Linked DNA regions of Homo sapiens: region 2 is linked to region 1. Evidence: fine-mapped expression QTL. A gene starts in region 1. The other region holds a variant in brackets. All regions are shown on one strand. Distances are between the middles of the regions.

What was found. PIP is the estimated chance that this variant, and not a neighbour inherited with it, causes the effect. A credible set is the group of variants that fine-mapping cannot tell apart.
Region 2: its variant is the best candidate, but not a certain one, in a credible set for the expression of ZBTB33 in blood mononuclear cells (TOPMed, PIP 0.68).

What each region holds. Positions count from the first base shown.
Region 1 is chrX:120,248,042-120,253,422 of GRCh38, forward strand. ZBTB33 (zinc finger and BTB domain containing 33) reads left to right here and starts at 2,771. Exons shown (of 3, transcript NM_001184742.2): 1 at 2,771-2,936; 2 at 4,628-4,729; 3 at 5,373-5,381. The coding sequence starts at 5,375. It also overlaps a transcript of TMEM255A not described here. RefSeq lists an enhancer at 2,478-3,316.
Region 2 is chrX:120,271,115-120,276,495 of GRCh38, forward strand. The region is part of intron 7 of TMEM255A (transmembrane protein 255A); the gene reads right to left. It also overlaps the pseudogene PFDN4P3. Among named protein-coding and RNA genes, the nearest start is that of ZBTB33, 23 kb to the left of the region's middle. RefSeq lists an enhancer at 3,666-4,343. The variant A/T (reference allele first, on the strand shown) is at 2,542.

The DNA of each region.
Region 1 (5,381 bases):
CAGAATTCCAACCCACTCACATCTTCTGCTTAAGACTTTGTTTCTTCCACTCTACCTTACTAGGGTTTCTGCAGATCCCATGGAGTGACCTTACCAAATCTGTAACCATAAGCATAACATATAGGAAGTGCTCTAAGACTGAACGAGTGTCACTTTATCTTTTGTCATCAATTAATATATATTAAGCACCCACAAGATTGTTGGCATTTTAACACAGGAGAGGACAGTTACCGCCCTCATGGAATTCACAATCAAGGTCAAAAGGCAAGCAAACGCTGACAATACGGCTATAAAACCTAACTCATCCCATTTTCAGCCAATAAAACCTTTCTAGAATGTGAAACAATTGATACCTCCAAATCCATTTGATATAGGTTGTTCTCTGACCTCAGGTGATCCTCCCACCTCGGCCTCCCAAAGTGAGTTGTTGTTGTTTGAAATAGAGTTCAAACTACTGGGTTGTTTGAAGTAGGGTTAAGCCCTCCAGATTAAAAACAAAAGTAAAAGTGAAATGACTAGTTGAGAAACAGAAAATTAATTAAACTTTCCAGTGATCCTGTCCCAAAGACAATTATTAAGGCCACTCAGGCTTCTTGGTCTGTTCTGCTTTCCTACAAATAAAATTCCTTTCCTGACCATTGGACCCCCTTTCATTATAGGTAGCTTTTAAACTTGTTTAGTTTTTGCTTGGTTAGGGGGTGAGAGATACAGCAAGAAGGGAAGAGAAGGTTTACTGTGCTTTGAATGAACAGGTTTCATCATATGTTAGTTGGTACTCCAAACTTTTAAAATACTTTCAGGAAAGTGACAATGGCATGGCAATTCTGTTGCCAGCCTCAGTGATGTAAATGCTGGTACAAAATAAATTGCATTGTGCCTTCCAGTTTACTGAGAGCTGACCAACAAACATGATATCTAGAGTGGCATCTATTGCCACTGTGATCTGTATTTCAAAGATATGTCTCATTTTAGTTTTCATCAATTAAGCCACTGAAAGATAAATAGATCCTAAACTTTCAAGATATACTTTGTTCTAATTACTAAGATTTTTTTTTTTACTACTAAGTTTTGGGGAGGATAACTCAGAAAAATGGTTATTAAGTACTCAGTTGCCAGGAAAAATACTAATCTGCCTTAGTTTATTTTACAACAGCATACTTCTATTTGCCATGAAATATCTTTATAGTAAACAATGAAACTTTTCATAATGCTAAGTCCTAATCAAAAATCAATAATGCAATAATTCCCACATAGTTTGTTTTCCCACAATACAAAATCTTGGAGAAGAGCTTAAGGAATTGCATATTTCCATGTGAAATACAGCTATATTATACCACTTTGATGTTTTATTATACCATGTGGCTTTACTTTATTGAGGAGGATGAAGAATAGATTAGGGATAGGTAGATGAGATGATGACATCCATGTCTGATTTCCTGTCAGAGAAAATTAGATATAGTTACATCTGTTTTCAGTCTAATATCCTGATGGACATTTTCAGCAAGATTTTTTAGGAAAGAAGCACAGGAATTCCACTGCAAGGTATTAATAGGTACAAATTTAAGATTTTGGAAATGAATGCAGTATTATCCTATATATATCTTTTTAAAAAGATAATGAAGGTAGTGAATGGCCTTAATTATGGCAGAAAAAAAGTTACTATTTGGTTCCTTAGTTGAATACGATCAATAACCAGCCTAAAAGGGAAACATTTTGCTCTCCAAACACCCATCCTGTTGCTTCATTTATTATGGTACTCAGTTGGAAGGGTATTACCAGAGGATTTTAAAAAATTATGTAACTCACAATGTATTTTTTCGGTCATTAAACAATCACTGAACACATACTATGTGTCAGACACTAAAGCCCTCTGAAGATGAAATGTTATGGAAATAGTAATAATAAAAAATTAAAATAGTAACAATAAAAAATTAAAAATGCAAGTGTTAATATTATTAATCTTTCAAGATACAGGTCAAATGACAGCATTCAATTTGCTATTCTCTTCTCTCTGCTTCTACACCTTGTACAAATATTTTTGTCCATGTTTGTGTACCTACCTACTGAGCTCCCTAAAGAGGTAGAGACCTTTGGGTTATTCATTTTTGTATTCCCGAGAGCCTAACATAGGGTTTTTGCTACAGATCAAGCAGGGGGTCAGTAAATGCTAGTTGGAATGAGGGAATTAACATAGTACTGCACCATTTAGTATTCAATTAAGAAGATAGTTGTCCAAACACTAAATTTCTTTCTTAAAAGTAGTTACTGTAATGTAGTTGCTCTCTTGTTATCCCAGAACTTGAATTACCATAAGAAGTTGTGAATTTCTATTTGATTGTATGTATTTTGATTATATTTCAAGATGGTTTATCATCTAGCAAACAGTCTAATAGAGCAGATTCAAACTTGCAAAATAAATGAAACCTGTATAGTCTCTAAAAGTTTGTATGCCCTAGAAGTTCACATTGAATTTCGATGAAAACGACTCGCTTCCCTTCCATCCAATTGCTTGCGACTGTCTTACCCGATCTTTCCCTTTCCTTTTTTCCCACCCGTTAGCCCTCCGGAAAGAGCCGAACACACAAGAGCTTCCCAGTCTTCCTCCGCCCCCTTGCGGAAAGAACCGAAGGCAGAGCACGGCGCCGAAGTGGAGCCGCCTCAAGCTCGGGCCCTTCCGGACCACCCCGGCCTGCGCTCGGAAGAGGAGGGCGCCTTTGGCTTCAGCGCTTCGCCCCCGCGCTGTGCCCTCTGTCGGCGGCGTGGGGCAGCTGTAGCAGCGTTGGCGGCAGGAGGCGGCGGCCGCGTCGACGTCGACCCAGACTGGAGCGACGTTTAAAGAAGGGGCAGAATCGCTGGGGAGTGCGGCTTCTTCTTGTTGGGGGACTCCCAGCCTTCCGCGCGTCCGGAGGAGGAGAAGCGGCGGCGCCGGGAAGCAGGTGAGGACCCGGCCCCAATCAGGGAGGGGGCGAAGGAGCGCGCTTGCCTTCTCCGTCCCTGGGCCGCGCCTGCGTTTGCATTCGCCTCACTTGAACCAGGAAGCGGCAGAGTCGGAGGCTCAGCTCCTCCGGCTCTTTCTTTGTGTGGGCCGGGGAGCGAAGGAGGGGACGAGCCGCGAGGGCCGCGGCGCGGTCCCCTTCGCCGTTAGGGGCCGAGGGGCTGCCGGTGCCCTGGGTAGGCCCCGGGGCTTGGGGAATCCATCACAGAGACCCACTTGGCTTTTCCCTCGCCCCTCTCGCTGCTTTTTTGTGCCTCTTTTACTCCCCTAGCCCCTACTTTGATTTAGAGCTTTTCTGCCAGGCCCATCCTCCCCTTCCGTCCCCTTCCCGGGGCACAACAATGCCGCCTGCTTCGCTTCATCCCCCCCCCAACACCCCACCCTGCCGTTCGCCACCTTCTACTTTCCCTGGTACCCCATATTCCTCCCGCCCTCACTCTGCTGTTTGTACCTCCGTCTGTATTTGCAAGAAGCTTGCTTTGCACGTGAATTGGGGTTAAAAACCTCGGTTGCAGCTGGCAGGGTCCATATGGGGAAGAGGGAGGTGGAGGAAGGGAGATGAGGTTCAGCTGCCGCAGGGAGCCGCGTGTCGGTTTGTTTCACTCCCTCGCGGATGGCTTTTATCTCTTTCCACCGTCACCAGCTCCTCCGAACTGGCCCTCGGTCAAGGGTTTCACAGTGATGTGGAATGGCTTTTCCACAGTCGAATCGCATATCTTCGGAGTGGGTTCAGACCGACTTGTGCTGTCTCTGGGGCCACCCTGAGTGGGAGGAGGGGGACACATAAACGAAACGAAACCGAGTCCCAGTGTCACCTGGACACGTACATTTGACGCATTCCCATATTGGAAGAACCCGGGAGCAAATGACAAAAATTGCGTGCCGTTTTCAGAAAACCTGTCTTTCCACTTAATATCGACTTCTGTCGAAATGCCCGTATTTCGGAAGCCCTGGTTTTTGGCAAACTGTCCAAAGGTCACCCTTTCTGATGATGAATGCCTTTATGGTAACCTGGAATTCCTTGGTACTGTTAACATGCAACACCTTCTAATAATGTTTTAAATCTTGATTTTTAGACTTTTTGCCTGCTGTTTGTTCTTAAGGTATCATTTTGAAAAATTTAGAAGGTATTTGAGACAGAACTGCCCTCCACCTGTATATAACTTAAGCATTGTGACATCGACACCCTTTTGGTAACTTCAAAGGGAGAGAATATTAATAAAAATATTTCTTCACTAAAAGTACTTGTCAACTAATTGTTAATATATAATATCCATATATTAAAATATATCCATATATAATATGTATGGATATTATATATTTTTAATATATGGGTTTTTTTAAACTCTGGCCTCTTTGTTACTGGAAATATCTTCTGCAAAGTGCAAAAAATGATGTTTTGCTAGTGCTACACAACAATGCATTCTACTGACATCATCCCCTTTTTCTAGAGTAGTCTATTCCAATAAGTTAATGTTTTCATTTTCACTAACTCATTTGGTGTGGAAAAAATTCTCATACCAATGCATATGATTCTTTACCAACAAAAATAAAATGTTTCGTGTTTTCTTGGAAGTGGGCATTTAGAAATGGTAAACTTTCCTTTTCCTTTGTCATATTTTTTCATGATAGTGTCTGTTGACTTCACTTGGCACTGTTTAACATTCCACCTCTGGAAATTGTAAAGATGGAGAGATGAGGGGAAGGGACAAGGGGATGAAGAAAGAGGAAAGGGTAAGAAAGATGTTTAATAGTTTATCAAGATGAGGCACCCCAATTTAAATAACAGAAAAATAATGGGACGTTGGGAGGTAATAATTGTCAGTGTTTATAAATGTCATTGGCTCCAGGGTGTAGATTCTGCATATATTCTTAAAGATTAGTTAAAATTAAGAGTATGTATTTCAGACACAGTATTGCACGCGCTGAGCTTTTCTGACATTTCAATCATTTACAGGCGAAATAACTTCTGTGTGTTCATGATGATTTTCCTTAATTTTGACAGTTAAAAGTCAACTCTTACCTCTTCTTGGAGAGAAAACCCAAAATTGGGACTAAGAAAATTAATTCTAATCTTTAAAAATCACTTAGTGGAGGTGCATGTATCTAATATTCAAAAAAAGGTGACTATGGAGATTACTGTTCAAATCTCTGTAACAATGTAAAACTTGCTCAACTCAGGAGCAAGCCATGAAATTGGACACTTGTTCCAAAAGCCAACCTGTATGAACAATTTCTGTAAAAGCCAAAAAATTATGCTGAACTTTGGTTAAAACTTGAATAAACTATTTAATGATGCTACTGCTTAAATTCTAAATAAGTACTTTTGTTTTTTCTCTCTAATCCTCTCCCATCCCCTCCTCTCTTTCTCTTAAAGGCATGGAGA
Region 2 (5,381 bases), 23 kb after region 1:
CCTTGCTCTCCTTCCGTACTGTCAAAGAAGCTCCCAACAGGTGGAAACAACTTGCTTTTAATTTTTTAATTAAATCAACTAAACAAAGGAGGTAATATATGTTAAAACACTCATAGAACCAGAAAGGGCTACCCAAATGTTAGTCAGGGGCAGCTGGGATGAAATAGAAAGAGCAAAGGCTCTGGCATTTGGCAAATCTGGGCTCCAGTCCCAGTTCTGCTACTCAGCTCTGGGCAAGTCACTTGACCCCTCTTGGCCTGTTTCCTCACCTGTTAAACAGAGACAGTAATACCTACCTCACAAAGTAGTAATAGTGAAGATTAACTGTGCAAAAGCACTTTGCAGAGGGTTAGGGGCCATTATTGCCGCTATCAAGACAGACCATCAGCAAACCCATTTTTTCCTCAGGAGATCAAAGATAACAGTGAAATTAAGAACGCAGAAACAAATCTATATATCTGCAGTTAATTGATTTTTGACAAGGTTGCTAGGATCATAAAGTAGGGAAAGAGCAGTGTCTTCAACAGATGTGCTGGGAAAACTGGATATCCACATGAAAAAGAATGAAACTGAGCCCCTAACTTATACTAGATATAAAAATTAAATCAAAATGTTTCAAAGCCCTAAATGTAACAGCTAAAACTATAAAATTCTTAGGCAAAAATGTGGAAATCATGACCTTGAGCTTGGCAATAGATTCTTAGATATAACACTAAAAGCACAAGCAACAAAAGAAAAGATAGATAAATGACACTTCATCAAAATTAAAAACTTTTGTGCTTCAAAGGCCATTATCAAGAAAGTGAAAAGACAACTCACAGCATGGGAGGAAGTACTTGCAAATCACATATTTGATAATGCTCTAGTATCCGCTATTTATAAAGAACTCTTACAACTCAACAACAACAAAACAGATTTAAAAATGGGCAGGATTCTTGGTCAGTGGCCAGGTCTCAGCTATAGCAGGGGAGTGGAGGGTGTGGGATGCTGGGGGTGCCCAGCTCTGAAGCTCAGTGTGGGGCCCAAGACTGAGGCCCCCAGCCCTTACAGCTGCTCTGTGGGGAGCCCTGTCTGCACCTAGGGCCCTGAGCATTTGCTTAGTCACCTGGCTTGTTGAGGCAGGGGGTCCCCAGGCCGGAATCCATGGAGGGCTCTGGGCACCTCTCTCAGTACTGAGGGTGCCTCTGGGGAGCATGAGGACCCTGCAGCCCAGGCCTTGTCCTTAGGGTATGGGAAACTGAAGGTCCCATTGACTGAGGTTGGCTTTTACGCACTTGATGCACTGATACGGTTTGGATTTGTGTCCCCACCCAAGTCTCCTCTTGAACTGTAATCCCTGTAATCCCCAGGTGTTGAGGGAGAGACCTGGTGGGAGGTGATTGAATCGTGGGGGTGGTTCCTCCATGCTGCTGTTCTGATGATAGTGAATGAGTTCTCACGAGATCTGATGCTTTTATAAGGGGCTCTTCCCCCTTTGCTTCCTTCACATGCACTCTCACCTGTTGCCATGTAAGATGTGCCTGCTTCTCCTTCTGCCATGATTGTAAGTTTCCTGAGGCCTTCTCAGTCATGCAGAGCTGAGTCAATTAAACCTCTCTTCTTTATAAATTACCCAGTCTTGGGCTATTTTTTTTTTTTTTTTTTTGAGACGCAGTCTCACTCTATTGCCCAGGCTGGAGTGCAATGGCACGATCTCGGCTCACTGCAACCTCCACCTCCCAGGTTCAAGTGATTCTCCTGCCTCAGCCTCCCGAGTAGCTGGGATTACAGGCATGCACCACCATGCCCGGCTAATTTTTGTATTTTTAGTAGAGACAGCGTTTCACCATGTTGGCCAGGCTAGTTTCAAACTCCTGACCTCGTGATCTGCCCACCTCGGCCTCCTAAAGGGCTGGGATTACAGGTGTGAGCCACTGCACCCGGCCGGGCAGTTCTTTATAGCAGTGTGAGAATGGACTAATACATGCACTTTACCTGGGTTATCACATCAGCCCTCACAAGTCCACAGGTAGGTGCTACTAGTGCTGTTGTTTACAGGCTGCAGAAAATTTCAACGCTACTTTTGAAGATCAACATTAGGTAAACAAATTTGCAAGGAATATGAGTAGAATCACAGAGCTGAAGGAAGAAACAGAAGTTAAAAGGAAACAACTCCACAATTTAGAAGTTGTTTGCAATGACATCATGCTTGCAGATGATGACTGCTTAATGATACCTTATCAAATTGGTGATGTTTTCATTAGCCATTCTCAAGATGAAACACAAGAAATGTTAGAAGAAGCAAAGAAAAATTGGTAAGAAGAAACTGATGCCTTAGAATCCAGAGTGGTATCAATTCAGTGAGTGTTAGTAGATTTGAAACTTCAGTTATATACAAAATTTGGGGGTAACATAAACCTTAAAGCTAATGAAAATTAAACATTTTATAATACTTTAAAATTTTGTTTAACAATCTTGAATATTGTTTGGAAAATAAAAAAATCTGCAAAAACTTGATAGATATTTCTCCAAAGAAGATATACATACAAATTGCACACAAAC[A/T]TATAAAAAGATGCCCAACATCACTGGTCAGCAGGGAAGTACAAATCAAAACCACAACAAGATACCACTTTGTGCCCACTAGAATGTTTATAATTTTTTTTGAGAAAGTGTTGGTGAGGATGTGGAGAAATTGGAACCCTCACACACTGCAGGTAGGAACGTAAAATGACACAGCTGCTGTGGAAAACAGTTTGGCAGCTCCTCAAAAAGTTAAACATAGAATTACCAAATGACCCAGCAATTCCACCCATAGGTGGAAAAAGAATTGGAAGCAGGTAATCAAACAAGTACTTGTAAGTGATTGTTCATGAAGGCACTATTCTCAGTAGCTAAAACATGAAAACAACCCAAATGTATATCAATGGATAAAAAACTAAACAAAACGTGGTCTATCCATACAATGGAATATTATTCAGCCATAAAAAGAAATGAAGCACTGATATATGCTACAAGGTAGATGAATTTTAAAAACAAAAAAAATATGATAAGTGAAAGGAGCCAGACCCAGAAGTTCGAATATTGCATGATTCCATTTATAGAAAATACCTGTAATAGGTAAATCCATAGGGACAGACAGCAGATTAGGGGTTGCTGGGGCCTCAGGGAAGGGGCAACAAGGAGTGATTGTTTAATGGGTACAGGTTTCAGGTAATGAAAAAGTTCTAGAACTAGACAGAAATGATGATTGCACAACATTGTGAGTGTACTAAATGCCACTGAATTGTACACTTTGAAGTGATCAATTTTATGTTTGTGACTTCCACCTCAATTTTTTTTAAAGGGGGACAGTGAGGGAAAACGGGACTAAAGCTAAGGCTAAAAGCTTGGCAGGGTTGTGTTCCTTAGCATATCATCTTCCTATTCCTCCCTTCTTTCCAACTTCCAGAAATTTCTTGAAAGTGTCCATCTAGCCACTCTCCCTGTCTTCCTCAGATGCCCTTTGCCTTCAAAATCCAATTCTTTCCATCACCATGGAAAAGGGTCTTATCAAATCCTTCACACTGAGAGACTAGTAACTCAAAGTATAAACACCTCTGTGGCCTACTAGCCTATTCCTTTGTTTAATACACGCATCTTGAAAGTGGACAAGGAGAAAAAGGACAATGCTTATCTTAAAGTAAGGAATAAAACATGGTGGCAGTTTCAGCGCCCACAGTAGGGTAAAATTGGAGAGGGGGAAGCCTTACAGGCACCCCACAGAGCCTACCAAGTAGCTACCACCTACTCCATTTGTGCATCAAGGTATCTCTGCCATCCAAGCCTGAAAGCTCTAGGGACAATTTAGAGAACTCTTAACACTCATCCTGAGGTCCCATCTCCTCAACTCGCCAAACCTGGGAGCTTCTCTTCCAGCCAAAGCTGCTGAGATTCCACACAATACCTGTACTTTCATCTGCCCCCTGGGGAAATTCTCCAAGAACAAAGGGCATTCTTTTCTCCAAAGAAGCCCCAACCCAGAAACAGCTTTTTTTGCAGCTCTCTAACCTAAAAGCTTCCTCAAGGCCAAATTTACAGGAAATCCTTTTCCCTCCTGGGGCTCCACCTTTGTTGATGCTTCCCCTACTTGTTAGTGCTTGGGCATTCCAGAGTCTGGGGAGGGAAGCTGGGAAGAGAAATGTGCGGATGAGAGAGGGAGAGAAAGAAGAAAGAGAGAGTGCAGATGGGCAGGAAAGGATTTCTCTTGACTTAGAGTCACTAGCAGGAACACTTAATAGTTCCAGTCAGCCCAGTACTGCTGGAGACTTGCAATCCAAAACGACAGAGTTTCTTTCTTTTCCCTTGTCCTACCCCACCTTTCACTTTCCAACATTCATCCTTTTGACCGTCCAGGATCAAATTACAAACTGCCTTTCAGGTTCTGTTCTTCAGGGACCCCAAAATCTGACAGAAACAGCCAAGGGCCTAGGAGCTAATTTCTGGGGTCAAAGGAAAGTCCCTCTTAGGCACAAAATAATTCCATAAACAGATGTGGGATGTTCATTTAAAGCAGTGGTATTCAATCATGGCTGCAGATCAGAATTACCTGGGAGCTTAAAAAAAAAAAACCAAAAAACCAAAAAACAAAACCTGATGCCTGGGCTTCAGTTTAGACCAATTAAATCAGAATCTTTAGAGAAGGAGCCCAAGCATTTTTTTTTTTTTTTTTTTTTTTTTAGAGACAGGGTCTTACTCTGTCACCCAGGCTGGAGTGCAGTGGTGCAATCATGGCTTACTGCAACCTCAACCTCCTGGGCTCAAGTGATCCTCCCACTTCAGCCTCCCAAGTAGCTGGGACTACAGATATGTGCCACTACACCCAGCTAATTAAAAAAAGTTGTTTTTTCTTAATAGAGACAGGGGCTGTTGCTCAGCCTAGTCTCAAACCCCTGGGCTTAGTCAATCCTCCTGTCTTGGCCTCCCAAAGGGCTGAGATTACAAGCATGAGCCACCATGCTGGGCAGGTGATTCTTATATGAAGCCAGGTTGATAACCATAACTCAAAGCTATTATCTCCATAATTAGAGATCTAGATTTATCAAATAAACAAATAAATGCTTAGAAATGCCTTAGAAGGAAAGGAAAAAAAGAAGCCTACTATATGGAGTACCTACTGAATGCTGAGTCCTGCTGTGCCTTTGCAGACACACACACACAAATAGAAAAGATTTGGAAGGGAAGAATGGAAAGTGGGGAGGCTGAGGTTGAGGTCCAAGTTGAAGGCAAGACCTGGCAAGCAACTTAGCCTAGAGCTGGCTCTGCGAATGCAAACAGAAAAGAGCCCAGATGCTCTTTCTGAAGAAACTTCACTATGAAATACCTGGGGAGGGGAAGACTAGCATTAATCCTACCTATAGCTAGAA